Regions from separate parts of the Homo sapiens genome. Here all the other regions are linked to region 1. Evidence: fine-mapped expression QTL. A gene starts in region 1. Each other region holds a variant in brackets. All regions are shown on one strand. Distances are between the middles of the regions.

Region 1 (10,881 bases):
TTATCTTTCTTATAGGTAAGGAAACCAAGGCTCAGGGGTATAGAACAAATGCCTTGTAGTCAATAAGGAGCAACTTTAGTTCCAGGTCTAACACTCTGTGAAAATCATGGGTCAAATAAAGTGCCATAAGATCAAATGACACCACCTAGTCGTTTTTTAAGAGAATGCTTAATGGAAAACTGAATTCAATAAAATATGTAATTACTGTGATGAAGATATATTTTTCACTTGTAATACATCTATAATAGAAGAAGCAAATAGTAAAAGGCTAATAAACATTATATAATATATAATTTATAACTTCTATATTAATAAGGATTTATAAGGCAGGTGAAGTTAAATTAAGAGGCAACAGTACATACCTTAGGTACCTCTTAATGATTAATAAGAAAGCCAATCAACTAAAAACTGGTATGAATGGTAAAAGCAATGTTCCCCAAAACAAAGGACTACTAGAAAAATGTACAAAAAATATGAACAACACTTAAGTTACAATATTTCCTATTGCATTTTGGAGTGACAGGTGAGACTAAATTTTGGCACAAGAACTAGTAACACATTGTAGATAGTAGATTTTATATATATGCATTTTTCTGGCCTTTTATACTATGATGTTCAATTAGTGACATGCCAATAAATGAATGGGGAAAGTATCTTAAAAGAAACCCTTCAATTCCATCAGAATTAAATTTAGATAATATCAGAATATAAAATGGAAAAAGTAGTTAATTACCTGTTGGTAAACCCAGTGTAAAATATCTGTCCTGTCCAGGTTTGAACTGAATGATGCGATTACAGATGTATTTGGCTGCCCATTCACTAGCCAAGTCATAGTTATCAAGAATTACAAGCCTCATTACGGTGACGCACAGCTTCCAGAACAAGTTCAAACCTGAGAAAAGTCCATTGTAGAACACTTTACATAATAAACAGATAATTTAAATTCAGTAACTTTTTAAAAGATGTAAATAATAAATAGAGCACTGAAACAGAATATACTGATGATTTTTAAAAGTACATTACTGAAGAAGGACATGCACATATACAATCTGAATTTAAAAAATAGTAATAGCTGTTCTCTTTTGAGCAGACACTGAGTTTAAGGCAGTGGGCTAGGTCATTTAAGTATAGTTAGCCTTCTGTGGATTCCATATTCGAGGATTCAGCCAACCAAGAACTGAAAATATTTAGGGGAAAAAGATGTTTGCATCTGTATTAAACAGGTACAGACTTTTTTTTGTCATTATTCCCTAAACAATACAGTATAACAACTATTTACACAGTATTTACATTGTATTAGGTATTATAAGTAATCTAGAGATAAAGTATATGGGAGTATGGGTGCAGGTGATATGCAAGTACTATGTCATACAATATGAGGGACTTAAGCATCTGTGGATTTTGGTATCTGAAGGGGGATCCTAGAATCAATCCCCAACAGATACTAGGGACAAGTGTACATATTTTAATCCTTACAACCATCTTGTGAAGTAAATAAAATGCCCAGTTATAGATGAGGAAATGGACTCACATAATTTGACTAAGGTCACACAGGTAGTAAGCAACAAGGTCAGAATTCAAATTATAACAATAGGATCACACTAGACATGTTATTTTTAATAAGAGAATTCAACAGAAGAAAAAGAAAACAAAGTGAACTAAATAAACTGCTCATCTCTGGAGGAGAAATTTCTTGACAAAAAGCAATTTTAGTTCCTCAAAAATTATTCTAAAATTAAGAAAAATTATTATACGTATATTAAGAGATCGGAGTCACTTAAAAGCTACATAATTCCATTTTACACAATGTAGGTTGACTTATACCATGAAAGATGTGGAAATCAGCATTCTTACAGTAACTCACAGCTTCTGTTATCTGTAAGACATATTGTTTTCCTTTTTTTTAAAAAAATGGTATAAATTTAAGGGGTACAAATGCAATTTTGTTACATGGATATATTATTTAGTGACTAGGTCTGGGGTTTTGGTGTATCTATCACCTGAATAATGTACAATGATCCTAGCAATTTCTCATCATCTACCCACTCCTACTCCCCAACCCTTCTAAGCCTCTAATATCAGTCTACTTTCCATCACCACGTGTACACATTATTTAACTCCCACTTGTAAGTGAGAACATGTGGTATTTTTCTTTCTATTTGGGAGTTGTTTCACTTAAGATGATGGCCTCCAGTTACTGCAAAGGACATGATTTCATTTTCAATGGCTGAATTTCGCGGTGTATATATATACCACATTTTCTTTATCCAATCATTCACTGATGGACACTCAGGTTGATTTCTTATCTTTGCTACTGTTGTTATTGGAAGGAAGGTCATGAGTGTGAGGTGTCCAGTTCCTTGGCATTTTGAACAAAGAACTGCACAAAAGGAACGAAACACAGGAATGAAGCAGCGAAAGCAGGGATACTGAAGCAAGAAAGCACCCCATGGGGTGGGAGTGGGCCCAAGCAAGCGGCTCAAGGGTCCGGTTACAAAGTTTTCTGGGTTTTAATACTCCTTTTGAGGTCCCTTATCGGTTACCCCTTATCTGCATGAAGGATTTGGTCCGTGGCTAATTAAAGGCTGAGGTGAATTGGCTCCCTATGCAGATGAAGGGATGGCCCATGCTTAGTCCACGGACAATCCAAGGCACTTTCCCCTTCCATCTGAGAGGTGGTGGAAGGCAGTCGATCGTAGGGAGAGTAGCCTTTGGTCCTTTGCTACTTGGGCATGGGGAGATGGGTTTTTTCCTTTTGGTCTAGCTTTAGGAAGTTTGCGTTAATTGGTTAACTGGCTTTAGGTTACCTGCCCCCAGACGCAGGTGTTTTCTCTTTTAGGAAGTCAGCACAAATTGGCCTTAGATTTCCTGCCCCCAGACCTTGGTGTTTTCCTTTGATTTAGCTTTAGGAAGTCAGCACGAATTGGCCTTAAGTCCTCTGCCTCCAGACCCTATTCTACTGCCTCACTGTGAATAGTGCTGAGATAAAAATGAATGCGGGTATCTTTTTGATATAATGAATTATTTTCCTTCGGGTAGATACCCAGTAGTGAGATTGCCTGATCAAATGGTAGTTCTATTTTCAGTTCTTTGAGAAATCTTCATACTTTTTTCTACAGAAGTTGAACTGACATTACCATCAATAGTTTATAAACGTCCCCTTATAACATTTACTGAACATTCTGTAATAATTCCCATAATTCTTAGATTTTTAATTCTTATTTTTATATTAAATGGATCAGTCACCAATACCAAGCTTTTTATAACATGGTTTCAGCATTCCTGAGTTTTGTACCCACACACTTTACATAGAGTAATAAGTCAAATTTTCTAAATTAATGAGATTAAAAGGTCTTATTAAAATAAATGTATGGAATCTAAATGTCTTTAAGAAGGTAACAGTTTCGAATTCTGACACAACAACAAAAAATCATGGTCACCATGATCTAGAATTCTGGCCCGATAACAATTATTTATTTACAGAAAATAAATTACATAGTAAGTCATAAATTCAGTCCAACAACTGGACTCAGCCTCCACTTAAATATAATCCATAATCTAATGTCAAAAACAATTTTAGAGTTAAACCAAAGAATCAGAAAGAATTATTGGCTGTAATGAACATCAAAAGATATATTTACTTCTAACAAGAATATATGGCCAGCTGATTGTTAATAAAACGGAAAAAAAATAAGGTAAGGAGGACGAGAAGCATTAGAGCTTTCCAATGTCTTCTGCATCCTGGGCATGTTATTTTTCTCAGTTCAACACACGTTTGAAGACCTATTATATTCTAAGCACTATGCTAGGTTCTGTAGACACAAAAATGATTAACTCTATTGTCAAAGGGCTTAGAATCACTTGTCTCTGAGGTTGAAAGCATTATTCTCACTCTTCATATACAGAAAACTGCAACTACGAGAAGTTTATTGCTGACGTTAAAAAGTGGCCCGGGGAGCTGGCTTTAAAACTAAGTGTTTCTGACTCAAAGAGACATTAGCCAAAGATGTCTTACCGGTTGAGAATCACTTACGATGCTAGTTAAAAATACAGATTCTCAGGTCCCTCTCCCTAGACACAGTGTTTCAAAAGATCTGAAATGAAGTCCAAGGAATCTCTGCTTTTGCAAATTATCACAGGGGATATTCATAATCAGGTGAAATTTGTTAAGAACACCACACATCTCACTGAAACGAAGTTTAAGCAAGTCTCTCAGACCAAGGTACAGGCAACTTTTTGTTTTCTTAAACTCTCTGGAGGGCGCAGAGTCACCTCCAAAAGTCCCAAATGAATCCCTTCACCCAGAGCAAAGAAGAATTTCTTCACCACATTTAAGTTTTTAAGATTTGACTTTTCCAGTTTTTGCCAATCCTCAGAGATCCAAACTATTGTCGCCTTATGCAATTCTCTGGCATCACAAGACAGCATCAAAAAACAACAGAGCACCACCCTTTCCCTCGTCTTCCTTCAGGTGCTGATTCATTTTGGATGTGCATCGCTAGGAAAAAGGGCTGCTGAATATAAATCGCAAAACTTCAATGGTGGATGACAACTTCTACACCCGTGAAGTTACACAGCTAGTTAATGGCGGGGCCAAGACCAGAATCTACACTTGCAGAACCTCTGCTCTGAGCTTTTCCCTACTCAACCTGACCTGTCCTGAAAGCGTAAGGGTGGCCTGGCCGCGCGTGTGGGACCGACCCGAGGAGGGACGAGAGACAGCAAAGAAGGCTGTGGTTCCTGCCCGGGAGGCGGGGGCTGCAGATTCCCCTCAGCTGCGCGTTTGCCTGGCCCTCACTTGGCAAAGGACAGCGAATGCAAATGAGGATGACTGTTAGGAATTTTTAACGAGTGTAGAGAGAGGTGTCAAGAAGAAGCCGCGAGAGAGGAGAGGGCAGGGACGCCTTCTCCCGTAGGCACAAATCCGGAGAGGACAACCAGGTCCGCGAGTGGCAATACGGGAGACCCCACGCGCCCCCAGCCTCGAGGTTCCTGAGCACCCATTCCGCCCCGGCCCGGCGTCCCAGTCTCAGCACAAAGGCCGCACAGGGCGAAGTTGCCGTCGGGTCCCCCGACCCGAGTCCCCTTCTTGGCGCCCCCGCCGCACCCCCCGCTAAACTTACCGGCAGACCCAATGGTTCTTCGATGCTGGAACAGCGGGAACAAGCAACACCCAACCACCCGAGAGCGACCCCAGCTGACCAGTGGAGCGCGAATCCCACGGACCCGGATGCAGATAAAGGCGCAGGAAGGAACCGCGGCGTGGCTGGCGGGCGCTGCGCATGCGCACCGCCTTTAGGACGCCTGAGGTGAGACGCGAGGAGTTCGGTCCGAGTGCGGTGCGGCTGGGCGCTCTTCTTGCCTGGAAGATCGCAGTTTCTGGGTCATCACTTTACGCTACTTTCCCCTCCCCCCCATCTTTCAAAGAGGGATTTGCAGTAGATTCTTTAGGCTTATGAGATTTAGTATGTAAGACCGTAGTGCTCACACGTACTTTGTTGCTTATGTTGCTGTTTGGCAACATGAATATATTTGCCATTTATGAATACATTTCTCTCTCTACTCCAAGCTATTGAATGCATATTTGCAAACGCAATGACAGATAAGCGTCTTGTGTCAAAAAACTCATCAAAGTTTGCAAAAGGGCAAACAGTACCATGGGAAATCGGGAGCGTCTCAGTAAGAGAAAACACTATATAATAGGGTACTGGCTTTTGCTGAATGAGTCTAAGAAAGGGATAGGGGAAGCTGGAATCAGCTTTGAGCTGGGTATCACAGATGTTTATACAGGAGTGGGAAGGAATTGGGCTGTGGAAATTATTGTAAAGAAAGCAGCTATCATTCAAAAGGAGAAAAGTGTGTTGTGTCTTCACCATGTTCCATCAGGAACACTGTTCCATTAATAACACCGTTTAGGGTTCTGTTAGGAACAATACAATCTTGACTCCTAGCCAACTTAAGGTTCTGTTTCTGTGGAAACTACAAGTTAAAAAAATGTAAAACGCTGTGTCCTCAAACTCGTTATATGAAGTTTTTCACCTGGGTTGTAAATCCAGCCTGCTTCTTTGAATGTAATGACTCCTCTTGCATCCTTTAGTGAAGAGTAGGATGTTACATTCTCGTTGATTTAGCTTCAAACAGCAACATTGCTCACATACTGATAATAGACAGGTTTATTAGTACTATCGCCTTCAGTAAGTTTGCAAAAGCGATTTTTGGCCAGATTCGGTGACTCACGCCTGTAATCCCAGCACTTTCAGAGGTCATGGTGCATGGATGGCTTGAACCCAGGAGTTGGAGACCAGCCTGGGCAACATAGCAAGACCCTGTCTCTCCAAAAAAGATTGAGGTAAAATGATGAAGTAGTTTGTAGGCTATGCATAGAATTTAGGCTTTGTATTGTAGGCAATAGGGAGTCACTTAAGCTTTATGAATTGAAGATAAGAGACTAGAACATACGTGTTTTAGAAAGAATGCTGTAGAAAGGTGGAGACTGAATTACAGTCTTGAATTACAGATATGTGCCACATAAGGAAGTTTAGGTAAAGAATGGACTGGATATTTGGCAATGGTCCCATAAGATTATAACAGAACTGAAAAATTCCTATCACCTAGCGACATTGTAGTAAACGTAAAGTTGTAGAGCAACACCACTCGTGTTTGTGGCTACATAGGTGTAAACCTACTGTGCTTCCAGTCTCATAAAAGTCTAGCACATACAATTATGTACAGGATATAATACTTGATAATAAATGACTATGTTACTGGTATATGTATTTGCTATATTATACTCTTTATCATTATTTTAGAGTGTATTCATTCTATTTCTATTTTTATTTTTATTTATTTGTTTATTTTTTTGAGACAGAGTCTCGCACTGTCACCCAGGCTGGAGTGCAATGGCACAATCTTGGCTCACTGCAACCTCTGCCTCCTGAGTTCAAGCAATTCTCCTGCCTCAGCCTCCTGAGTAGCTGGGATTACAGGCAGCTGCCACCACGCCCGTCTAATTTTGTTTTATTTTTAGTAGAGACGGGGTTTCACTTATTAGCCACGCTGGTCTCGAACTCCTGACCTCGTGATCTGCCTGCCTCGGCCTCCCAAAGTGCTGGGATTATAGGCGTGAGCCACCATGCTTGGCCCTATTTATATTTTTAAAAGTTAACTATAAAACAGCCTCAAGGAGGTCTTTCAGGAGGTATTCCAGAAGAAGGCATTGTTATTATAGATGAGAGCTCCATGTGCATTATTGCCCTGATGAACTTCCAGTGGGATAAGATGTGAAAGTGAAAGACAGGGAGATTGATAATCCTGACCTTGTGTAGGCCTAGGCTAACATGTGTGTTTGTGTCTTCATTTTAACAAAAAAATTTGAATAGGAAAAAAATTAAAAATAGATTTTAAAATAAAAAAACTTATAGAATAAGGATATAAAGAAACAAAATATTTTTGGACAGCTCTCCAATGTGTGTTTTAACCTTAACGTTGTTACTAGAGTCAAAAAGTTTTTTTTTTTTCTGAGACAGAGTCTCACTCTGTTGTCCAGGCTGGAATGCAGTGTCGCAATCTTGGCTGACTGCAAACTCTACCTCCCAGATTCAAGCAATTCTCCTGCCTCGGCCTCCCGAGTAGCTGGGACTACAGGCGCATGCCACCACACCCGGCTAATTTTTTGTGTTTTTAGTAGAGACGGGGTTTCACTGTGTTAGCCAGGATGGTCTCGATCTCCGGACCCCATGGTCCCCCCTCCTCAGCCTCCTATAGTGCTGGGATTACAGGCGTGAGCCACCACTCCCGGCCAAAAAGTTTTTTAAAAATTTAAATATAAAGTAAGAAAGCTACAGGAAATTAAATTTACTATTGAAGAAAAAAAACATCGTTTTATAAATTTAGTGTAGCCTAACTCTACATTGTTTATAAAATCTACAGTAGTGTACAGTAATGTCCTAGGTCTTCACATTCACTCACCACTCATTCACTGACTTACCCAGAGCACCCTCCAGTCCTGCAAGCTCCTTTCATGGTAAATGTCCTATACAGGTGTACTGTTAATATTTTTTAATTTTTATACTTTTTTTTTTACTATACCTTTTCTTTGTTTAGATATGCAAATATATACCATTGTGTTACATTGCTTACCGTATTCAGTAATATGCTGTACAGGTTTGTAGTCTAGGAGCAATAGGCTATACCATATATGTGTAGTTTGTGTATATATGCTAGGTTTGTGTGCATATACTGTATAACATTCACACTATAATGAAATCGTCTGAAGATGCATTTCTCAGAATGTATCCCCATAATTAAGTGATGCATGACTGTATGTTATGAAGACTCCAACACGGAACGACTCTGAGTGTACCTTGTATTTTTCCTACCCAGCCTTGGTATCAGGCATTTCACTAATAGCTGATAGTTGTTTTATTAATCAACAATGGATGTTGAATTTTGTCAAACACTTTCTATGTATCTATTGAAATGGTTGTATGGTTTTCCACTCTAATATGTTGGTGAATTCAATGTTGAGTGCACTTTTATTGCTGGAGAAAATTAGATTTGGTCATTGTTTTTCTTGGTCAGGGTCTTTCTTATACATTTATTGTTGGGTTCAATGTTCTAAAATTTTGTTTAAAAATTTTACACCTATGTGTATGAGGGATATCAGTCCATAGTTTTTTTGTTTATTAGTTTTTTTTTGTGTGTGAAGTCTTTGTCTAGTTTTAGTATCATAGTAATAACAAACTTATAAATTGAGTGGGAAAATTTCCCTCTTCAATGTTTTGGAATAATTTGTGTTGAATTATAGTAACATAATGTATTCTTTAAATACTTGATAGAATTCACTAGAGAAGCCGTACGTACATAGAGTTTTCTTTTTTGAAAAAATTTAACTATAAATCCAATTTCCTGAATAAATACAGGATTATTCAGGTTATCTATTACATAATTTTCATCGAGATGTAATTCACATACTATAAACTCAGGCTTTTAAAGTATACAGTTCAGTGACTTTCAGTATACTCACAATGATATGTAACCATCACCACTATCTAATTCTGTTTTTCTATTTCTATCCCCCACCCCACATCAAAAGAGACCTCATCACCTGTTAGCAGTCACTTCCAATTCTCCCTCCCCTACCTGATTTCCTGGCAACCACTAGTATACTTCCTCTCTCTGTGGATTTGCCTATTCTAGATATTTCATATAAATGGAATCCATATGTGGCCTTTTTTTGTCTTGTTTCTTTCACTTTGCACCATATTTTCTAGCTCCATCCATGTTGTACTTCATTACATTTTATTGCAGAGTAATATTCCATTGTGTTGATATACCACATTTTGTTTATCTACTTGCTAGTTAATAGACATTTGGATTGTTTCCTGCTGCTATGAGCATTTAAACAAAAGTTTTTGTGTGAACATTTATTTTCAATTCTCTTGGATATATACCTGGAAGTGGAATTCCTCAGCCATATGGTAACTAGATGATTAACTTTTTGAAGAGCTGCCAAACTGTTTTCACAGCAACTGTACCATTTCATATTCCACCAAAAATGCATGAGGATTAAAAATTTCTCACACCCTTGCCAACACTTGTTATTTTCTATCTTTTTTATTATAGTGATTCTAGTGGATATGAAATGATTCGAATATGCGTTTCTCTAAAGACTTATGATGTTGAGCGTCTTTTCATGTGATAATTGCACTTTTGATATCTTATTTGGAGAACTGTCTATTCAAATCATTTCTTGATTTTTAAATTGGGCTATTTGTTTTTTATTGTTGAATTATAAGAGGTTTTCATATATTCTCAATAGTAGAGCCATATCAGATATATGATTTAGAAATATTTCCCTATTTTATGATTTATCTTTTCAGTTTCTTGATACTGTCCTTGGAAGGAAAAACATTTTTTTAATTTGATGAAGTCCAGTTTATCTACTTTTTCTTCAGATGTCATGATTTTGATGTGCTAGCTATGTAACTAGAAAAATTTGGGCTTGTATTTTGTGTCTTTTTTCCTTTTATTTTTCCAGTTATTCATTTTTATCATATTTTACAAAAGCACTGGTTTGTGACAAATTGAAAATTTAAAAAAAATATATCCTTCACCACAGATAGCTTGATAAGCGCTGTTTTTGAGAACTATCCTGTTTACACTGGCTAACATTTAGGGTATGTCTGTGGCCCTACACAGTGGCCAAAACAGGGTGCCAAGGGAACGGGGGTGGAAGGGATCAGTCAGGGCACAGGTCATGAGCAGCTGCTGTGGGAGCTGTTCCCTTAACCAGGGAGGAAAGGGAAGCGGTGACTTCAAATCTTAAAATTCTCAAGGTCAGGAAGATTCACACCTATGATCTGTTATAAAAGTTTTGTAGTTTTATCTTTTACATTTAAGTCTTTGAGTTAATTTTTATATATCGTATGTGGTAGAGGTTCAACTTCATTCATTTACAGGTAGACATTCAATTGTTAAAGCATCATAGATAAAAAAGACTGTTCTTTCTCCCCTTGAAAGACTGTTCTTTCCCCCCTTGGCAAACTTACTGAAAATCAGTTGACCACAGAAACATGGGCTCTCAGTTCTATTCCATTGAGCTACATGTCTATCTTTATGCCAGAACCACACTATTTTGATTAAGATCAATTTGTAATAAAGCTCAAAATCAGAAAATGTGAGTCATCCATGTCTTTCTTTTAGGCTGTTTTGGCTATCCTGGATACCTTGCATTTCCATGTGAATTTTAGGATCAGCTTGACCATTTCTGGAAAAAAAAAGGCCATTGAAATTTTATAGTAATTATGCTGAATATATCGATCAATTGGTGAGTATTACCATCTGAACTATATTAAGTCGATCAGTCCATGAACACAGGAT
Region 2 (9,965 bases), 56 kb before region 1:
TAGCAAAACTAGCTTAAAATCTTTTTTTCTTTCCATTGCATCAGTGTTTCTATATAAAAATCTATTGCTGAGAATGTTTTTAGGCTGTGAATTTTAGGCTGTGGATATCACACTGTGGTTTTCACAGAATAATATTAATAGTTTTACTGACAGTCTTTATTGGAAAGGTTGTTTTCTACCTGTGATAGGCAGGTTCCGATGTGGTCACCAATAATCCCAGCATCCTGGTATTCATGCTCTTGTGTGATCCCCTCCCCTTAAGCATAGTCTTGATTACTTGATTTTAACCAATAAAATATGGAAAAGATAATGGGATGCCATTTCTGTGATTAAATGAAAAATATTATGACTTCTATATTGTTAGCAGACTCTATTGCCTTTGTGGCTTGCACACTTTGATGAAGCAAGCTAAAATATGGGAGAGACCCAGGTGGCATGGAAATAAGGGAGGCCTCACTTTCTACCCAACCCATTTCTCACGGATGGGTAGAAAATGAGGTCCTCAGTCCATCAGACCACAGGATCTGAATACAGCCCCAAATCACTGAATGAGCATGGAAAAGAATCCTTTCTCAGTTGTGTCTTCAGATGAGACTGTGGATCTTTGTCTGATATCTCAATTGCAGCCTTGTGATAGGTTGTATAGCAGAGAACCCAGTTCAGCCATGCCCAGTTTCCTGACCCAAAGAAACTATAAGATAAAAAATGTGTGCTGTTCTGTAGTAGTAGGTAACTAATACAATAACTCGTCAGTAAAACTGACAAACTTAAATATGTCTTGACACCAAAATCTTTTAAAAAACTAATTAAATGTATAAGATCTTATCCTCACATATGTCATGTCAACATGGTGCAATTCTCATTTTCTAAGAAAACCAGATAATTTACCTGACAAGACAAACCTGTAGCCATTCTAATGTCTTCTCTTGATGTATTATGCTCATGCTATTTCTCTCTAAATCATCTATTATGACAAAGAAGGAAAATGGGAGACATTACATCCATATAACAAAACTTAACATGGTACCAGAGGGCCTCCAGCTCATCTTTTTCCAAGGGGAAAACATCATCAAATTTTTCCACTAAGATAGCCATCAAGTTTTGTCACAGAGATTTCCCTAATAATAACTTCTGTAAACTTGTAGGCTAGCATTGTATTTCTGTTATAATGTAAGCTCTCTTATTCCTGCTGTGTGACCTATGGCAATTTACTTAGTTTCTCTGCATGTCAGTTTTCTAAGCAATAAAATTATATTTTTGGATTATATGGTATATAAGGACACCCCCTATATCTACTGAAATATTTCAAGTACTGTAAGCGTACCTAAAAATATTTATATTTTTAACATGGCCACAGCAGAAGCTTCTGATGGGAGACATTATCTGTGTTGCAAAGCTGCTTGGTATACTGCCTAAATGTGCCAAAAATTTCTGCTAAGACATTTTATTGCAAACTCGAATCTACTAGATTCTGCAGGGATTCTTTTGAATAAATCCTTTTAGGCCTTAAAAAGAAAAGTTCTCTTTTTTTTCATGTTCCTAGTGCAACATTAAAAGTGTTTATTTCTCATATTCTTTATTCAACATGTTACAATTCCCTTCCTTGTGAGCATAAATAAATATTAAATTCCACAACTGCCATAGAGAAACAAGCACAAACGGAAATGATGTTTTTCTAAGATAATTCACTTTCAAATGAATGAATACTACTGTGAGGTGTTTAATAAATCTAAAACTAGTGACAAAAATAGGAGGAATTATTAGAGAAAAAAATTGATCAGTACTATGCAAATAATGACTCACATAAGAATACAAAATGTCAGAGAAGCAAAAAATAACACAGGTAAGAAATAGATGCTAAAGTAATTTTTTAAAAAGACAAAGTCACAGGAAAATTAATTTCCTTATTTTCCTTGGCATTGTGCACTTAGAAATGTACTCTTCCGGGTTGCTTAAGAATCCTTTAATCCTTGTAATGGACATTTATTGCTACTCAATATCCAATCCACCTTCTCATTTCCTGTCAGCACCCAGTTTTCCTTTTGGGGAACACCCTGCCGACATTGTGTAAGAGCCCCGGGGCTCACATCAGAATTTCTTCCATAATGCTACTAGTAGATCCAGATCAACACCTCAAAAAAAGATTATTTCACTAATTGTGAAAACTGATGCTCTCTCCCTGTATCTCAATAAGAAAAAACAGTGTTTCAATTGCTTCTGACACGCATTTTTTAAGGATGTAAGATAAAAATAAACCAAATATGGAGGAAGGCAGAACCAATGGACTATCAGAGAAACAGACCTGTGATCCTGATAAATCCAAGGCTTAAAGAGACTTGGCAGTGATATAAGCCAATAGAACTGCTTGTTTAGACCAGGTTAAGCTGTATAATTGTAACTTAAAGTTTATAATACACCTTCCTGTAAAAACATAGCTAACAACCAAAGCATCTCCCTCCACCAAGAGATAGAGTGACTCACTCCATTACCTAGGCTAGAGTGCAGCGGCACAATCAGAGCTCACTGAAGCTCTGAACTCCTGGTCTCAAGGAATCCTCTTGCCTCTGCCTTCCAAATCACTGGGATTACAGGCATGAGCCACTGCACCCCACAGCCTCCAAAGTGTCTTTAATTGATGCCTTTTATTTAGCTATTGTTGTATATGTTGGGTCAGGATATTTTTCAATTTAAACACTTCTAATCTTATCCTTCCTAGTATTTTATTGTGATAAAAATCACACATTAATACTATAATATTTTATTTTTAATAGTGAAATCTATCAAAACTCTTAATGATGTGCTCCTAAAGGAAATACCGATGCTCCACGACATAGCCTTCTGAAGAAGACACACCTTTGAAAGATGTATGAGTGAATATGTGTGTTCCCAAATATATGACAGTACAAAGGCCACGGCCATTGCCTGGGCATTGCCTTGGGGTTTATGAAAGTTACCTGACGGGTGGAAAAATAGCCAAGCCTTTCCTGTGTGATATACTTTGGTTCATGAGTAGCATATCATTTCTCCAGGTTAAAGACTTTAAGCTAAGGCATCAAACAAGTTTCTGTACATGCCAAAGAGCAAAAGGAAGGATGCCAGAGACAAGTCATTTTCAGTTATGACTAACTTCCTGAATCAGTAAGATTCACTAAAGAATTGGAGAACAATAAACTTTGCTTTGAGATTTTTGTTTTAGAATAATATAACAACAAGCTTAGAAAGTAGTTGAATTGGTCTTCATCTGACAAGAATGACACAAGTCTCCACAGTGCAAAACTAAACAAAATATTCCCTCTCCCCTGCCCTGCTTAATTTTTTTAACTAATAGATGATAATGGAGGCATAATGGAAACCAGGAATCAGATGATACATTTCAAGTGTGAAATGCAAAAATTTTCTTTACTCTGGGTTTGTAATATGCAATTGCTTTTTTCATATTCTATATTAAGGCAGGATAAATTTACCATCCAGTCAAATTCATTTCTTCTGCAGACACAGTATCACTGTCCCCATGTAGGTTGCCATCATTTATCTCTTGAAACTAATTTATTCCCTGCCTCCAAGCAGCTGTGAAAATGATCTAAATGAGACACAAAATTGCTACGCTACTCCTCTGTGTAAAATCTTTCTAACCTTGCAGTGGCTACAATTACCAGGAACATGAAATCCAAGCTCCTCGTTCCCTGGTCTGGTTCCTAATTTCTTTTTCAACTTCACTTCTTGCCAAACTCTAAATTCCTGCAACCTAAAAGTGCTGGCTGTTTCCTGCATATATCATGCCTCTGCTCACGTAGGATCTTCCATCTAGAACGTCACACCTTACTTTCATCTCAGCCTGGTTGAATCTGACTTATCCTTTGCCCCCAAGTTAGGGACATAACTCTGTGGTCAAGGGAATAGTTTTCAAATCTGCCAGAGTGGTGTTTAAATGCCCCTTCACTACATACGACCTGCATGAACTCAGTCAAGTTATTCAACCGGCCCAAGCTCAATTGCCCTATCTGTAAAACAGGGGCAATAATACTTATTTATAATGTTGTTTTGAGGATTAATTGAGATATTTACAAAGTGCTTAGAAGAGCACCTGGCACATAGCAAGTTCTTTATTAATGTGTATAACTAAGTATTATTGTCACCCACCATGCAAAGACTTTCCTGATACCACCACTATCTGGCTGTAGAAGAGGCCTCTTCTCTGTTCCTTTATAATACTTTATTGAAAATTCTATCATAAAAATTATAACATTGTAATATGATTATCTTTTATAAAATGGCTTTTTAAATTTATCATAAATTCTCTCAGTACTACAACCATACCTATTTCATTTTTGCATTCCCATGGCTTAATATAGTGTCTGACATGTAGTAAACATCCAGCTAATATTTATTGAATGATTAATAAATGATATTCTGTCCCCAGCCAAATCTTATCTTGAGGTATAATCACCATAATCCCCATCTGTAAAGGGAGAGACCAGGTGGAGGTGATTGAATCATGGAGGCAGTTTCCCCCGTGCCATTCTCTTGAGAGTGAGTGAGTTCTCACGAGATCTTATGGTTTTATAAGGGGCTCTTCCCTTTTCACTCTTTCACTCAGTACTTCTCCTTCTTGACGCCTTGTGAAGAAGGTGCCTTGCTTTCCCTTTGCCTTCTTCCATAACTGTAAGTTGTCTGAGGTCTCCTCAGCCATGCTGAACTGTGAGTCAATTAAATTTCTTTCCTTTATAAATTACCCAATCTCAGCAGTTCTTTATAACAGTATGAAAATGGACTAATACATTAATCAATGAACGCAAATTTCTCAGAATAAAATAAATATATGTACATAAGTTGTTACAGATAGTCATTGCTACACACACACACACAAAAACACATCAAAATTTACTGAATTTAAACAAGGAGACATTTATCTTTTTCAGAAATCTGCAATTTGGGCTGTGCTGATGGGGAGAGCTCTTCCCTGCTCTGCTTGGCAAAATCTGTGGTAGCTCAGAAACTAAATGCTGGAATCATGTGAAGTCTTGCTGAGTCCATATGTCTGGTGGTTGTTGCTGGGTGTCACCTTAGCAAAAGGCATATAATTAAGGCCACTTGTTAGTTGACTTTAAAATAGGGAGATGATCTGAGTGCCTTAATCTAACCACATGAATCTTTTTAAAACAGAAAATTTTCTCTGGCTGGTGGCTGAAGGCAGAAGAAGTGAGATATTTGAAGCTCAGTGGGGATTTGATGTACCATGGCTAGCTTTAAGATGGAGAGGGCCACGTGCCAAAGAATGTGAGTAGCGCTAGGAGATGAGAGCTGCCCCCTGATGACAGCCAGCTAGGAAATGTGTATCTCAGTGCTACACGGAATTGAATTCTGCCAGCAGCCTGAATGAACTCAGAAGTAGATACTACCCTAGAGGTTCCACGTAAAAGTCCAGCCTGACTAGATCCCAGATTTCAGCCTTGTGAAATACTAAGCAGAGAATCCAAATGAACCATGCTGTACTTATGCCCTACATAACTGTGAACTAATAAATCTGTATTGTTTGAGGTGCTGCATTTGTGGCAATTAGTTACAAAGCAATAGAAAACTAAAACAATGGAGTTTCTGGGGACAGCATTCAGAAAAGAAATATTGCTATGACCATTTAAGAACTACCAATAAGTATCTATTCAGAGTATTTGGGTTGGTAATGTTTTTGCTTGAACATAAATACTTTAAAAGTAATTATCATTAAAAGTCTTTGGATTTAAGGCTAATTTTAAGGTAATTTTTACAAATTACCATAAATTATGATACAAAGTCTCAGGCTGATTCATTTTTGAGGCTCTGAAAGAGGAGATTCGTCCAGATTCTTAACCAGGATCAAGATTTAGACAGAAGGCTACTGACCTTGGGCCTGCCGGGAGGTCAACTCTTAGATGCTGTTGTGGTTAAACTCTGTCCCCACCAGAAAGATATGTTGAAGTCTTAATGCCCAGTACCTCAGAATGTGACCTTATATGAAAATGGGGTCTTTACAGGGATAACCATGTTAAAATGAGGTCATTAGGTTGGGCCCTAATTTAATATTACTGGTATTTTATAAAAACGGAAATTTTGAACACAGAGACATGCACAGACAGAAGACTATGTTAAGAGACACAGGGAGAACACCATATGGCAGAGACTGGATTGATGCAGCTACAAGCCAAGAAATGCCATAGACTGCCAGGAAACAAGCAGAAGCTAGTAGGGGGCAATGGAACAGATTCTCTATCCTGGTTCCCAGTAAAAACCAACCTTGCCAATTGAACTCTAGCCTCCAGAACTATAAAATAATGATTTCCGTTGTTTAAGCCACTCAGTTTGCGGAAGCCCTAGAAAACTAATACAGATGGCAAAAGGAAGTGGGCTGCTTCAGCAAGAAATATCTTAAAAAGTATAAGTTGTTTTGAACTTAAGAAATGCGCAAAGACTGAGTTTTGAGGAAAATGGCAGAAAAAGCCAAAATTGCCTTGAAGAGATTGTTGGTAAAAAATATGGATGTTAAAGGAGAGTCTGTGGAGAGCTCATAAAGAGTAAACCTGGAGAGAAAGCTTCTATCATCTTAGATCATACATCATCATGAACAATGTTGCTAGAAATATAAATGTTAAAGGTGGTGGGGTATCAGACAAAAATGAGGATCATTTTATTGGAAACTGGAGAATAGGTGATCCATGTTAATGGAAACTGAAGAAAAGGTGACAGAGAATTTGGTTGAATTGTGTTCTATAGAGTGGAAAGAACTTATTCATGATGAACTTGGATATTTAACTGAGGAGAATTTTAAGCAAAGTATTGAAGGTGCAGCCTGGTTTCTCCTTGTTGTTTATAGTAAAACAAGAGAGGTAAAAGATAAACTAAAGAAGGAATCCTGCCTGAGTTTTCCTGTAGATTTTGAATTCCCTGCAGATTTTGGACTCAAGAGTGCAACATCAACATTTATCTGAATTTTTAGGCTGCCATCCTGGTCTACAAATTTCTTGCTTGCTAGCTTCCACAGTTGTGTGAGTCAATTATTTAAAATCTCAAATGTGATCTCTTTCTCTCTGTCTCCATATGCATGTACATGCCATGCATGGCTATATATGTGTGTGTGTGTAAATATTTATATATACACACATTATAGATATATATATACATTTTGTGTGTATGTGTGTGTGAATAGCCAGTATATATACCTAGCATGTCAGACAGTGTGTGACGCACCTTGAATAAGTAATGTGAGAAGCCATTGTAACCAGTATATCTAGCTTAGGTAGACTGGAGAATAACATTGCTGTTAGGATGTTTTTAATATTCAGTATCTCATAGGTAGTTATAAATCGAGTTTAGGGAAAATAATTCAGGGCTAGAGTTCTGGAAACCATCTGTAAACAATTTTTTAAAAAACTGTGGTACTAGATAACTTTTTGAAATCAGAGGGTAGGAAATAAAGTTGTTGAGAAAAGAAGAGAGAAGAACTCAATACACTTGAGGGTACCCTTTTGTGAAACATGCCTTGAGGAAACAGAATAGCCTATATGGATTTGTACTTATATTTTTCAAAAATTATCTCTAAGCATCTATATTAGTCAATGCTCTCCAGAAAAACAGATGATGACTCCAGCCTCCTTGAGTTTCAGTCTGGGAAAGCTCAAAGTTGCCAAAAGAATCTGTTTGTTCCAGCCAACACCTTATTTTGGTGCTAATATTTTACAGTTCTTCTCTAATGCTGACTAATCTCCCTTTTTAATCAAAAGAAATCCAACTCTAAATGAATCACATTTTTTATTCATTATGCTGATACTGTTAGTTTTTAACAGGTTATTATGTTGTTTCGATTTATATTAATCATA[T/C]AAAGTTTTCTATTTAAAAATTCATTTACATATAAAAGGTAAGTTAATTTAAAAAATATTAAGTATATAAGAGAAATAGGAAGATTGACAAAATACTTTTCCTGACTAACTATAGCCAGGTTCCTCTGAGCCCATTTACTGGCAAAGTCTCCACCTTGGGCTATAAAAACTACAGACTCTCAGCACAACTGATTTCATCCACATCCTCCCCCCTCCCACCCATACACACATATCAAAAGACTTGAACAAACACTAATATAGTTTCTAACAGCTCAAGGTTGCATTCTTAAGATGAAATTTGGAGTTATCCTGGCCTTCTCTCTCTCTCTACATCAAATTAATTTTGTTAAATTTGTCTCCAAAATGCCACTAATCATCTCTTCATTCTCTGCCACTGATTTACCCAGGACTCTACTGTGTCTTACCTAGATTATTATTATTATTATTACTTTTTGAGACGGAGTCTAGCTGTGTTGCCCAGGCTGGAGTGCAGTGGCGCAATCTCAGCTCACTGCAAGCTCCGCCTCCTGAGTTCACGTCATTCTCCTGCCTCAGCCTCCCGAGTAGCTGGGACTACAGCGCCCGCCACGATGCCTGGCTAATTTTTAGTGTTTTTAGTAGAGACGAGGTTTCACCGTGTTAGCCACGATGGTCTCGATCTCCTGACCTCGTGATCCACCCGCCTCGGCCTTCCAAAGTGCTGGGATTACAGGCGTGAGCCACCGCGCCCGGCCTGTCTTACCTAGATTATTAAAATAAAAAACTCTCTTTCCCTTTCATTCTCATCACCTCATTTGATTTCTTTTCATTTTACACATCGTTAGAGAAAGCCCCCTAGAGCAAAAAATTCTGTTATTTCCTTCCTTACGATGGTTTCTGCATAGATTAATGGTGAAATGCTAACTAGTACGTCCCTGTTCAAAGCCCTTCACAAAGTGATACAAACTCTTCTTTCTATGATTCCTCCTCTACCCTATACACTTTCTATTTTGTGATATGAAAATATTTCTAAAGATCAAATTTTTATGCTCAAAATTTGAAAAAATATAAAAGTCTAAAAAACTTAGAATAATTTAAAAATGGGCCTCAAAAGTGAATTGAAAGATGTATTTTATACTGTAGACACATGGTGGCACCATTTTAGCAGCCTAGCAGCAATACTAGAGAACCTTTGTTAATATTGTGTGATTATGCTCTAAAATTGTGCAAGCGCTTTAAATGGCTAATGTGATACTACTTTAATCATTTATTAATGGTATTTTTAGTGCTAGAAATGCTCCACAATATCAATAACTTTGAAACAGAATTTAGAGGTGATAGTTATTTATACATTGTTTTTATTACTCTTTTGTTATGGGCTGAATTGTGTCAACACTTCCATGTTTATATGTTGATGTTCAAACCCCCAATATCTCAGAATGAGACTGTATTTAGAGATAGGGTCTTTAATGAAATAATTAATTTAAAATTATTAGGATTGGCCCAAATCAAATATGACTAGAGTCTTGATAAGAAAATTAGGACACAGACATGTATAGAGAGAAGACCCTGTAAGAACGCAGAAGGTACTGATCTGCAAGCCAAACAGAGAGGTCTCAGAAGAAACCAGCTGTGCTGATACATTGATCTCAAACTCTTAGCCTCCAGAATTGTGAGAAAATAAATATCTATTGTTTAAGCCACCAAGTCAGTCTGTGGTATTTTGTTATGAAAGCCCTAGCAAACTCATATTCCTTTCGGTATATTTACAAATATAGAAACCATACAATAGTTGTGGATTAATGTACTATATGAGTGCAATCTCCATATTATATATTTATTTTTACAGAAAAACTGAGTCTTGATTTATGAGTTTGTAAATTATTTAAGCTCTTCAGAAGTCCTCGCCTCAAATAAAATGCTACTGTCCTGAATGTTGGCCCTGTTCTCTACTGACTATTAACCCAATTTATTGTGTGTTTTTCCGCATTTGTATCCTTGCTCAGCTGAGCCGAGTTTACTGGAGTGGTTAAGGGTGCAGGCTCTACAGCTGGACTGTGTGGACTCACAGCCCTAGTTCATCACTAACTGTGACTCTAGACAGTTATTTAAAAAACGTTGGCCACATTTTTCTTG
Region 3 (10,881 bases), 26 kb before region 1:
TTCATGATTCAGAGAGTAAGAGAGATTTATAAGTAAGTTCCATTTGAACCTCCTTAAGAGATCACCTTTACACTGATTATGCAACTGGCCTAGAAAAATACTTGAAATATTCTTATTTAGGATATATAAACAGTTGTATTTTTCTGTCTCAGAGACAAAGCTCATTCAATTGGCAAAGCCATATGTGAACGGCTGAAGGATTCTCTTCCTAGGCAACTGTTTGAGATAGCAATTCAAGCTGCTATTGGAAGTAAAATCATTGCAAGAGAAACGTGAGTTGAAATTCATTTTTGGTCTTGAGCCAGTTTCAGAAATGATATACCTAAAAAGTGAAAGAATATTGAACATTTTAATTTAACATTGGCCTAAGCTTTCTTACTTGTAGAAACAGTATGATGGTGCTCTCCAGTTTTCTGATTTAAGTAATGACTGTTACTTTGAATTACTTATATAACAGCACTGGGTGATGTGATCTGCAGTTAGTATAACGTATACGAGTTTGAGGAACTGTTTTAATTTCCACTCATATCAATGTCTATACTGAATTTCCTGGGTAAGGAATTTCTTTTATGGTTTTATCCCTTTAGGTAGATTATAGATTAATAGAAACTGAAACTAAAAGGTTTTGTCTTCCAAATGACAAAATTACAATTTTTTTTTAACCCAAAGCATTTAATATTGCTTCCCCACTTCCGCAGAGCTAGGGAGGTTATAAATCAAGGAATGCCAATACCATGTTAGGATTTGCATTCTAGATTAGGGACCTCACATGAATTATAGTAGATATGGAAGACAGGCTAATTTGTGTCGGACACTAGTCTTTCATGAAATGTAATACATAAATCAGAACACTGGCTGGGTGTGGTGGCTCACATTCTGTGATCCCAACTACTTGGGAGGCTGGGGCAGGAGTATTGCTGTGAGACTAGTCTGGGAAACATAGTAAGACCCAGTTTTTTAACAAAAACCCAAAAATAACAATGAAGAACACTGAATAAGCTGCTCTGCTTGTGACAGCAGGTGCAGGATGTGTCTTGTAGCACTTCCCATTTCCTTTCCTTAATGATCCTAAGACTTCTAGGAAATAGGAAGTATCTCCTCAGTTATGAAAAGCTGGAAATTGCTATTAAATTCGACCTTAACCCAAACCTAATGAGGAAATACAACCATCATGTTAATATAGACTTGAGGTTAATTTTAGGCCCACTGTTTGAAATACATTTCATTTCCTAACACTGTTTTGCTTTGGTTAGTTATTCTGTGTTTTGTAAATACTGAGATCAGGCAGAGTAGAAATGATAACTAGGGAACATCCTGGAAAGTGCAATTTAAGACAGTTAGCAATTGCTCATTCTAAAATAAGTGTGTTGAGATAATACCTTAAAAAATTGGTTTTTCTGTCTTAAGGAATACATAAAGATGGAGCTATTTTCAAAATTAGAGTGATCTAGAAATTTCTCAAACATTGTAGAAATAGATTAGTTTATAACTGCTGGGGTGGATATATCAAGCTTCCTAGCCACTCCATCCACATTCAGTAGAGGCAGTAATAAGATAATAAACATATTTTGTTTTTCTGAAGTAGTAGTGTTAATTTTTAGATTGGTAATTTTTAGATTGAGTAAAAAATAACCTAATGTATTTCTTGTAATCAAGGTCACATCATGCTTGAATTTGGCCTAATCAAGCCTACCACAAGCCTTGACCATTTTTTCTTAATGTGTGTTGATAAACATGTTGAATTTATTTGTTCTTTTATACCAAGTACATGAAAATAAATACAAGAGCATTTGAAGTATCTAATTAATATGCTTATGGCAATTTTACATAGGTAATGATACTATCATTAAAATTTTCTAGTAAAGGGGAGATTGTTTTTGGTAAGGAAGTGCTTTTAAACAGTATAATGGAATTATGTACTTAAACGAATTTTTCTCTTTTACAGTGTGAAAGCCTATAGGAAAAACGTTTTGGCAAAATGTGTATGTATCTAGTTGTATTTATTCTACTTTATAACTTTTATGGGCTTTAAATCAAAGGGGGCATAAACTTATTGATTTCCATTGTTGGTTTTTATACATTCTTTGTTTCCAAGTTCCCTTTTTGAATAGGTAAATTTCAGCTTGACCATGGCAACCTGTTCATTTTGCCCATATCTTTTAAGTATTTTTTCATCTTATTTATAAAAATTTACAAAAATATTTATTAAAATTGTTCTTATATGTAATACTAAGGAAGATTTTTACAACAGTTATTTCTATGATCTGGGTAACATGTTTTCTTGATCTAACATATAATGAAAGATTTTGAAAACAATGGCTTTATCTTACAGTTGAAGTCTACCTCTCCTGACATTGTTTTGCCAGTTTGCTGTTATTCAGCTGTTAAAAAATTATTCTTGCACCAGCTCGGTGGCTCACAACTGTAATCCCAGCACCTTGGGAGGCCAAGATGGGCAGATCACTTGAGGCTAGGAGTTCCGAGACCAGCCTGGCCAACATGGTGAAACCGCAGCTTTACTGAAAATACAAAAATTAGCCAGGCGTGGTGGTGCATGCCTGTGATCTCAGTTACTCGGGAGGGTGCAGCATGAGAATTGCTTGAGCTCAGGAGGCGGAGGTTACAGTGAGCAGAGATCCTGCCATTGTACTCCAGCCTGGGTGAGAGGGAAACTCTATCTCAAAAAAAGAAAAATTATTCTTAAATATCGTGAGAGTTGAATGATCAATTCTTTCTCCAAAGGCACATTTATTCCTATGTGATTAAGAGTTACCTATATTAGACTGTGGCTTTCTAGTCAAAATTCCAAGCCTAGAATCAGTAAGGAGATTGATAATTCTTCCTTGACATGCATATTATTATACTAGGTTTCCTTGGGAATCTTCACCTCCATCCAGATTAAATCCTGTATCATTCTTTGAGAAGACAGTAAAATTAGATCTGCTAGGAAGATTAGAGAGATGTCTGCCTTATGGATAATAATTTGGTATGGTTGTTAAGGTTGTACTGATGCCGCTGTAATCATATGATTGTTTCTCTTTAGAGTGACTTAGACTTCCAATGTTTTAAAATATTTTTCAGTATGGTGGTGATATTACCCGAAAAATGAAGCTTTTGAAGAGACAAGCAGAAGGGAAAAAAAAGCTGAGGAAAATTGGCAACGTTGAAGTTCCAAAAGATGCTTTTATAAAAGTTCTGAAAACACAATCTTCTAAATAATTGGTGGGAAAACAAAGAATTTTCATTGCAATTTGTAATATGCTGACAACAGAAAGAAAATTATAAAATTTGCTTGTTACTTTCAGGGTATTCAGGTTCAAATAACCTACTAGTCTTTCGTTGAAAGGGAGTAGTTAGTGGGTAGGCAAGAGCTTAGATTTTGAAGCCATGTTGCCTGTTCTCAAATATCTGTTCCAACCACTCACTAGTAAGGTGACCGTGGCCAGATTAACCTTTGTTTCCTCTTCAGTAAAATCGAGATTATACTACTACCTACATAAGTTGTTGTTGTGAAGATTAAATGAGGTAATACGTTAAATATTCAGAGGTGCAAGACACATAGTAAGCACTCAATTGTAACTACAGTTAAGTCCTTAAATGCCATCGAAAGGTTCTTAGAAACTGACTTTAAGCAAAATGACACGTAGCACAATGTTCTTGAATGATGTCATTTCCTTAAGTGGTTTGTAACATCGATGAGGAAAAAAAATTGGTTTATGCGTCATTTCATTTTATTTTTATTTATTTTTTGAGACAGAGTCTTGCCCTGTCGCCCAGGCTGGAGTGCAATGGCACAATCTCGACTCACTGCAACCTCTGCCTCCTGGGTTCAAGAGATTCTCCTGCCTCAGCCTCCATTACAGGCGTGCACCACCATGCTCGGCTAATTTTTTGTATCTTTAGTAGAGTCGGGGTTTCACCATGTTGGCCAGGCTGGTCTTGAACTCCTGACCTCGTGATCCACCCACCGTGGCCTCCCAAAGTGCTGATTACAGGTGTGAGCCACCATGCCCAGCCATGTCATTTCATTTAAAGTCACAATTTCCATGAATCTCAACAAGTGAGGACCTGCTATATTTTGTTGCATGCAGTTTTTCTTTACGGACACTAAAAGGCCCCATACTTAAGATTCCATCTACTTTAAGTTTAAAGGATTTTCAGAATCACCTTAAGTGTCAAATTTGTTAGCAGGATTAATTGATATGAATTCACTTATTAAACAGTAAACTCAAATAACATAGACATCAAATAACAGACATCTGCTCTAGTTAATGATAAAATGTTTATAGATTTTATCAGGTGGTTAGTTTGAAACTAAATGGTTTACATCTAAATTAAGGGCAGGAGCTGTCTTTCAGACATTCAAAACGCATTTGTGTAAAATGACAGGTGTTTGGTATTACCAGGAACTCATAATGACATTTTAATAATTATTGTCTAAATTTCATAATCGAAGCGATTTTAGAGTAGTTAACTTGAGATTTCACAGCCAGTAAATGGCTGTATTTCTCCAGAGCTCTCAGCTCCCATGTTTATTCAGCCAACGAACAAACCAGACTGCAGACTGTATTAGAGCAAGACAACATCATTTAGCCATTGATTTTTATCTTCTACCTTGAATGAATTGAATGAAGAAAATGTCTTTTAGGGATAAACACTATCAAGGATGAATTTTATACTAAGGTTATATGAAAGAAAAATCTCAAAACCACTAAGCCAAAGGGAAGTCAAGCTGGGAACTGATTGAGGCAAACCTGCCTCCCATTTTATTCCTAAATAAGACAGCCACAAAGATAAAATTTGCTCACAAGGGAATTCCTTATGGACAAAGAACTCAAAGTCTTCACATGAAACAAATGCATAAATGATTGCTTTCTCTGTTTCATGTTTCACTAAGCCAGATTAAGGTATAACTGACTATTCCTCTACTCTCCTCTCACATGTAAATTGTATATTCAGTGAAAGGCTAATCAGAAACTCAAAAAAATGCAACCCTTTCTCTCTTACCTGCCTATGCTTGAAGCCCCCGCCCCTCTTCAAGTTGTCCTGCCTTTCAAGACCAATGTACACCTTACACATACTGATTGATGTCTCATGTCTCTCTAAAATGTGTAAAACCAAGCTGTGCCCCAACCACCTTGGGCACATGTGGTGAGGACCTCCTGAGGCTGTGTCATGGGCACACCTTAACCCTGGGAAAATAAACTTTCTAAACTGACTTGAGAGCTGTCTCAGATATT[T/C]TGAGCTTACAGTTATTGTGAAATCATTTTAATTATAAATTAAGTGGAGATTTACTTAAAATCATGTGTAGAAGTAGCCTGTGATATAGTCCTAGATACATACATTATCATCTTATGTATCTTCCCTCCCTCTTCCAGGTTCTGATAAAAACAGATGAAATCTGAAAGACCATGACAGTAGTATTTTGAAAATGACAGTATTTGAAATTAAAAAATTGTAAAAGTGTTCTGTTCTATCACTGCCAAAGGATAAGTTACAAATTGGTTCTTGGAACGTAATATGTACTATGTGCTTGCTATTTAATAATTTACCAGTCTTAGTCTTTTTTATTCAGACTAATTTTACCTTTTTTTAACCTATGACTCTTTAGTTATAGTAGTACAAAAAAGTAGTTTTAGTTATAGTTTTAGTTGTAGTACAAAAAAGCATTTTCTGTAAGCTTAATTTCTTTCCCCTTCCCGCTTTCCCAGTCAGATGACTTTAGTGATTTGGAGTTGTGTGCTTTATAAGTGCATTCCTCAGAGGACTTAATATTACTAAGATTTTAGCAAACACTGAAATATGTTTAAACACTGTTATCAATATTAAAATAGCACCGTTTATTGACTTTAATATGTGACAACCACTGTGCTGAGCTATGTATGCTTCCCTTATTCAATCTATGTAAAAATTTTGGGGAAGTAGCTGAGACTTTTTTATTTCCCTGACAGAGCTGGGATTCAGTGGTTGGTTTCTTGAAAAAGCTAGGTTCTTTGCCTAACAGCAGCTTAGCTCCTCAATTTAGGGAATGAAAGCAGGAATGAAAATGGCCAGAGTTTTCGCTCCTCAGCTTGTGGAGGAGCTTGAGTACATGAACCTCAACTAAGCCCCTAACATCAAGGGAAGGAAAATGGAAAGGAGAATTTTTAGACCTTTAAAGCAGAGAAATTACTGGTGAATCATGTAGCACAACAGGTACCTTTAGCTTTTTCACTGTGATGCTGTATGACTTTCTAAGGTAGTCAGCATAGTTTGTAGTAAATGATTCTTATTACTGGAAGTGTAAGTGGAGTGTTACTCACTAGTTATTTAAAAAACATTTATAAGGCTATTAAAACATCATCTGGAATTAAAGCAGCATAATTTACCCCATCCCCCACTTTTAACCATAAAACCCTATTACCAATTTTATTTCATTAATTTATTTGCTATTTTAATATTTTAAGAAACTACATTTTAATCACATAGACAAGCAGATAAGTAAGGCTTCTTCTACCAGGTGGGCTTATGAAATGCAAAATAAGCAAAAGGAGCATTTTTTTGCTCCCCACAGAGGCAAAGACATCTTTTAACCTAACTCTCCTAATGCATGATGGTAACAAACCCAAAATGAATGCAGGTTCACATGTACTATAATTGTTGGGAGTCGAATGCATGTATTCTTCAGGTTCACTTCTGGAAATTTAGATAACTTATTTATTACACGCTTTATTTGAGTTAAAGATAAAAAACAATATACTTTTATGTAAATTGCTATGGCAATGTAGTTTACAGTAATTCCTTTTATATATACTTCGTATTATTCTTTTAGACATTTTATAAGGAATAAAGCTAATTGTATATTAAGTTTAACAATAATCAGAAAATATTCTCCAAAAGAATTTCCTGAAGTGGCTTGCTAGGTATAAAGCTCATAATTGTCAAGATACTTATATTAGGGACATGAACCCAAGTCGTTAAATAAAAATAAGATATTTGTAAAAAAGTGCTATAGAAGAAGGTGCACAAAAAACATGCACTTACACATACTTTCCAAAAGGATGTAAACTGTACTTTTAGGCACTGTCATCTCTTCAAATTTCCTTTACCAATGATATATAGCACAATTTTTGATGTCTAGATGGTGCTGTAGGAAGATGACTAAGGCAACCACGTGCAGAAAAGCATGTGTGTGATGCACAGAAAATATAAAGATTGCATTCCAAAAGTGAAGGTCTGCAATGATAGTTTGTTATCTGAAAGGTTTGGAGTGTCTTGTCATTAAAAAATGAAATATACGCCACTGGAGTCATATCACAAATGGTGCCTGATGTGGACACTCTACCTTTAAAATGACTTTTTAAACAGGCAGACATTTCTATGCTGTTTTATAGGTGGCTATGTGACTTCAGTACTTTATAATAAATAGCCAGTCAATCTTGAGAGCCAGCTACTTCTCTTAAACCCAAGTACAAGATATAAATATTCAAAATATGGAATGTTTAACATAGAGACTCGAATGAAAAAATGACAATCTTCAAAATTCCCCATGTTTTGTCATATTGCATAGCTGAAAATTCATCTACTACTTAGTAAAAAGTGCTCTGTTCATTCAAGCTGAATTTTGCTCCAGTCTCCTTCAGTTTCCATCTTTCATACTGAATAGTGGATCCACAAGTTTATTGTGCACATGCATTAGACCTTAAAGAAAAAAAGCACAGTTCTAGTTGTTTTTATTAATTTTGAACTATCTCATTTACTTTAGACAACAAAGTATTTTTTATAAGACACAGTAAGCCTGTTTAGTTCCCATCTTGATATAGTCAAGTTTATTGAAAAAGTACAAATAGAAATGTTTCAGAATGTCTTAAGTTTTATCTACCTAGCAAATACCAATTTATAATTATGTAACAGTGCAGATCTAGAATGTGTACAGGTACTTTGGGAGTAACCAGAAGAGCATTTCTTGTCTTCAAAGAGATTAAGCATGACAAATTTGAATACTGACTTAGATAATAGGTTTTAATTATATCTAAAAGTCTATGTTGATATTGATCCTCTGGCAGTTCCTCTACTAGACTCCAGCCAGGGGCTCAGAACTGCTGTCTCACTCTTAATACATTACCCTATCCATTCGTCTGGTAAATTACTTTCCAATAGTTTGGCATGTGTATTTATGACAAAGGTTGATTACAAATTCTACACTGAGGGAGGGTTACTAAAACAAGACAGAAAACAACCTGTATTAAATCATTTAATTCAGAATAGAAATTACGATTTTAAATCCGGTAGATTATAACTTTCATTTTGTAATTGGTACATATACTTGCAGACTGCTCTTAGCTATGGAAGCTGCTTGGGAAATAGCTGATCTTCCAGTTACTCCTGTTTTAATGCCTCAGTACTATATTTCTTTGGGGAGAAAAAAGTTCTAAAAAGACTGACCCAGTTAATGAACCAGAGATTTTATATTTTGGAGGGTAAAGAAATGAGTTAAGTTTTCCAGGTATTAAGAACATGGGAGGGTGGGGAAAGGCACTTAATGCGGTTTTGCAGGAAATGGGATTACTGGATTGGAGAGATAGGTTGCTTGTTAGTAAACAGATGTTCCTTGTCAGAAAGGCTGCAAAAAGGACTCTAAAATCCCAGCTTTGAGAAAGACCCACTTTTAAGGGACAAGCAAAGAGTACTGGGAAGTGTTTGTGTAGTAGGAGAAATTCTAACCATAAGAATGGGACTCTAAAGGAGGGAAGGGGGAAGCATTCCATTCACTAGTCCTGCAACTGCTCAACAGCCTACTTGAAGGTCACCTGAAACTTCATGTCCAGTAGGAGAGGGGACAACAAAGATAAGGGTAATATCAGCTGTATGATTTAGAAGATGCAACATTTTCCAGAGTATCACTTTGTAGAGGATCGTTTTTCTACTTAAATAGTATTCATCTGTCATTTGCTAACAACTTTGATTACGGAAAGAATACACAGAGCTTTAAAATACATGCAAATTAAAATATCAGTAAATATTAAAAATTCAACTCCTTTATAAAATTTTTTTCTTTACATTGGATATATCTTTTATACATCAAATAGGACTGCTTCCAAACTAGAAATAATTATTTTGAAAATTCTATTAATTGCTTTTTAGATATTAAGTCAAATATTTACTGTGACTTTAGGTAAAAACTGACAACTTTCTACATACGAATTTTATATAAATAAATAATTGCTACTTAAGTCAAACAGAAATAATTCTTCTGATAAAAATGCACCAGACTTCCTGAAACGTTACCAGAAGAAAGGTTAAATGTCACAGATTCTAACCAATGTCTATACAAAGTAACTTTTATGGTTTTGACTCAAAATGAACTCATTCTACCTTTGTCAAACTACTGAGGTGGAGCCTAAATACAAAGTAAGAGAAAAAAATTCATGATGATGATGTCATATACTAAAAATCAAAGCTGTTCTATTTAAAAAGCAAAAATGAAAAGCGAGAATGAATAAAACAAATCCCCACGTACTAAACTTGTTGTCTTGTGATTAACTTGTATCTTTCAAAAGGTATATACCGTTATATAGGTATATATTGAAATAAACTTGCATTTACTGACAATTTTTATTGTTTTGGATCTAGTTAACCTAGATCTTATCTAGGCACTAAATAAAACCCTTTAAGATTCTGGTCAGCACTTTTTAGTGATGACAGAAGAAAGGGTAGTGATGTGAATGGAATTTGAAGAGTTATGGATGACAATTATAGGAATTTACATCCTCCAGTATTTTGATATACTAGTAACTCAATGGAGGTATGAAAAGTATACAAACTACATTTGAAATGTGTTTATTTAAGAATATTCAATTTCTCTACCCTTTACTAAAATGCTGTAAAATGAGGCCCATATGTAGCCCAGAATGTCTAAATTCTGTCTTCATATTGAAGGAGGTATCCTAACAGGCTGATACCCTGAAACCTCTTCAGAAATACAGACAGCTCCAAAGTGGAAAATACTGTGTCCTCTTGATGCAGTGCAGCTATCCTCTCACGAATGGTCTGTTTCAAAATTTTTCAGAAGAGCTTACAATTAGATGAACTAAAAGAACTAAATACATATAAACATCTACCACCCTTCTATTTTAAATTATCTAACATATGTCGATATACCTTTTTTGGAAGCAGTGATTATCATATGGGAAAAAAGCAGATGGAAATATGGTTTTGATGTAGATGGTATCATACCTAGAGTTTATTCTGGGAGGCAGTATAATAGAATAGACAAAAGCCTGCATACTCCAGAGATCAGCCTGATTTTGATTTCTATTACCCAGCTCTGCCCAAATATGTGCTGTATGACTTTGGGTAAGTAGCTTAACGTCTCTGTCTGTTAAGCCTATTAATTTAAAAATGGGACTATGAATACCCATTTCATAACATTTTTGTGATAAGTAAATCAATAAGTAAAATGCATTTAGAATAGTGCCTGGTCATAGAGATACTGGCTGTTATTAAATATCTTATTAAATATTCACCAAGATATAAAAATCTGATAAAAACCTAATTGTGACAAAATTAGATTAGTACAGGGATTTATCTGGGACTTAATGAGGACTAGAAAATGGCCATGTTAAATGAATCTCCTTAAAACTGGAATTAAAATTTGTGGATAGTGAGGATTCCTTGTAGTCAAGGAATCTATTATTTGGGATGAAATCTGAAGGGTTACATGGGAAAATAGAGTTAAAACTCCATCAAATGCTCTTTTATTCACAAATCAGAAATTTTTCAGTTTTTCAGTTTTTCAGTTTGATATATTTGTGGCTTGGTAAATTAGTAATTTAAATGGTAAAAATATAAATGACTAGAAATAATCTAAGTGTTAATAAGGAAATGTTTAAATAAATTATG

Direction of the effects. Positions count from the first base shown, and alleles are read on the strand shown. Sizes are in standard deviations (SD) of each study's normalised expression. Not every link is listed here.
With allele T in place of C in region 3, the expression in thyroid of the gene that starts at base 5,206 in region 1 is lower (moderate effect, 0.67 SD a copy in GTEx).

Evidence for each region.
Region 2: its variant is fine-mapped to the expression of GNPDA2 in esophagus muscle (GTEx, PIP 0.93).
Region 3: its variant is fine-mapped to the expression of GNPDA2 in thyroid (GTEx, PIP 0.95).

What each region holds. Positions count from the first base shown.
Region 1 is chr4:44,721,351-44,732,231 of GRCh38, forward strand. It overlaps GNPDA2 (glucosamine-6-phosphate deaminase 2), which reads right to left and starts at 5,206. Exons shown (of 7, transcript NM_138335.3): 1 at 5,124-5,206; 2 at 734-892. The coding sequence starts at 857. It overlaps LOC105374439 (a long non-coding RNA gene), which reads left to right and starts at 10,632. Exons shown (of 6, transcript XR_925277.3): 1 at 10,632-10,828. RefSeq lists a silencer at 4,622-4,916 and an enhancer at 5,409-5,538.
Region 2 is chr4:44,665,647-44,675,611 of GRCh38, forward strand. No RefSeq gene overlaps it. Among named protein-coding and RNA genes, the nearest start is that of GUF1, 7.8 kb to the right of the region's middle. The variant T/C (reference allele first, on the strand shown) is at 7,851.
Region 3 is chr4:44,695,463-44,706,343 of GRCh38, forward strand. It overlaps GUF1 (GTP binding elongation factor GUF1), which reads left to right. Exons shown (of 17, transcript NM_021927.3): 15 at 153-272; 16 at 1,946-1,982; 17 at 3,082-5,466. The coding sequence ends at 3,219. It overlaps GNPDA2 (glucosamine-6-phosphate deaminase 2), which reads right to left. Exons shown (of 7, transcript NM_138335.3): 7 at 6,333-7,680. The coding sequence ends at 7,619. Among named protein-coding and RNA genes, the nearest start is that of GUF1, 22 kb to the left of the region's middle. The variant T/C (reference allele first, on the strand shown) is at 5,241.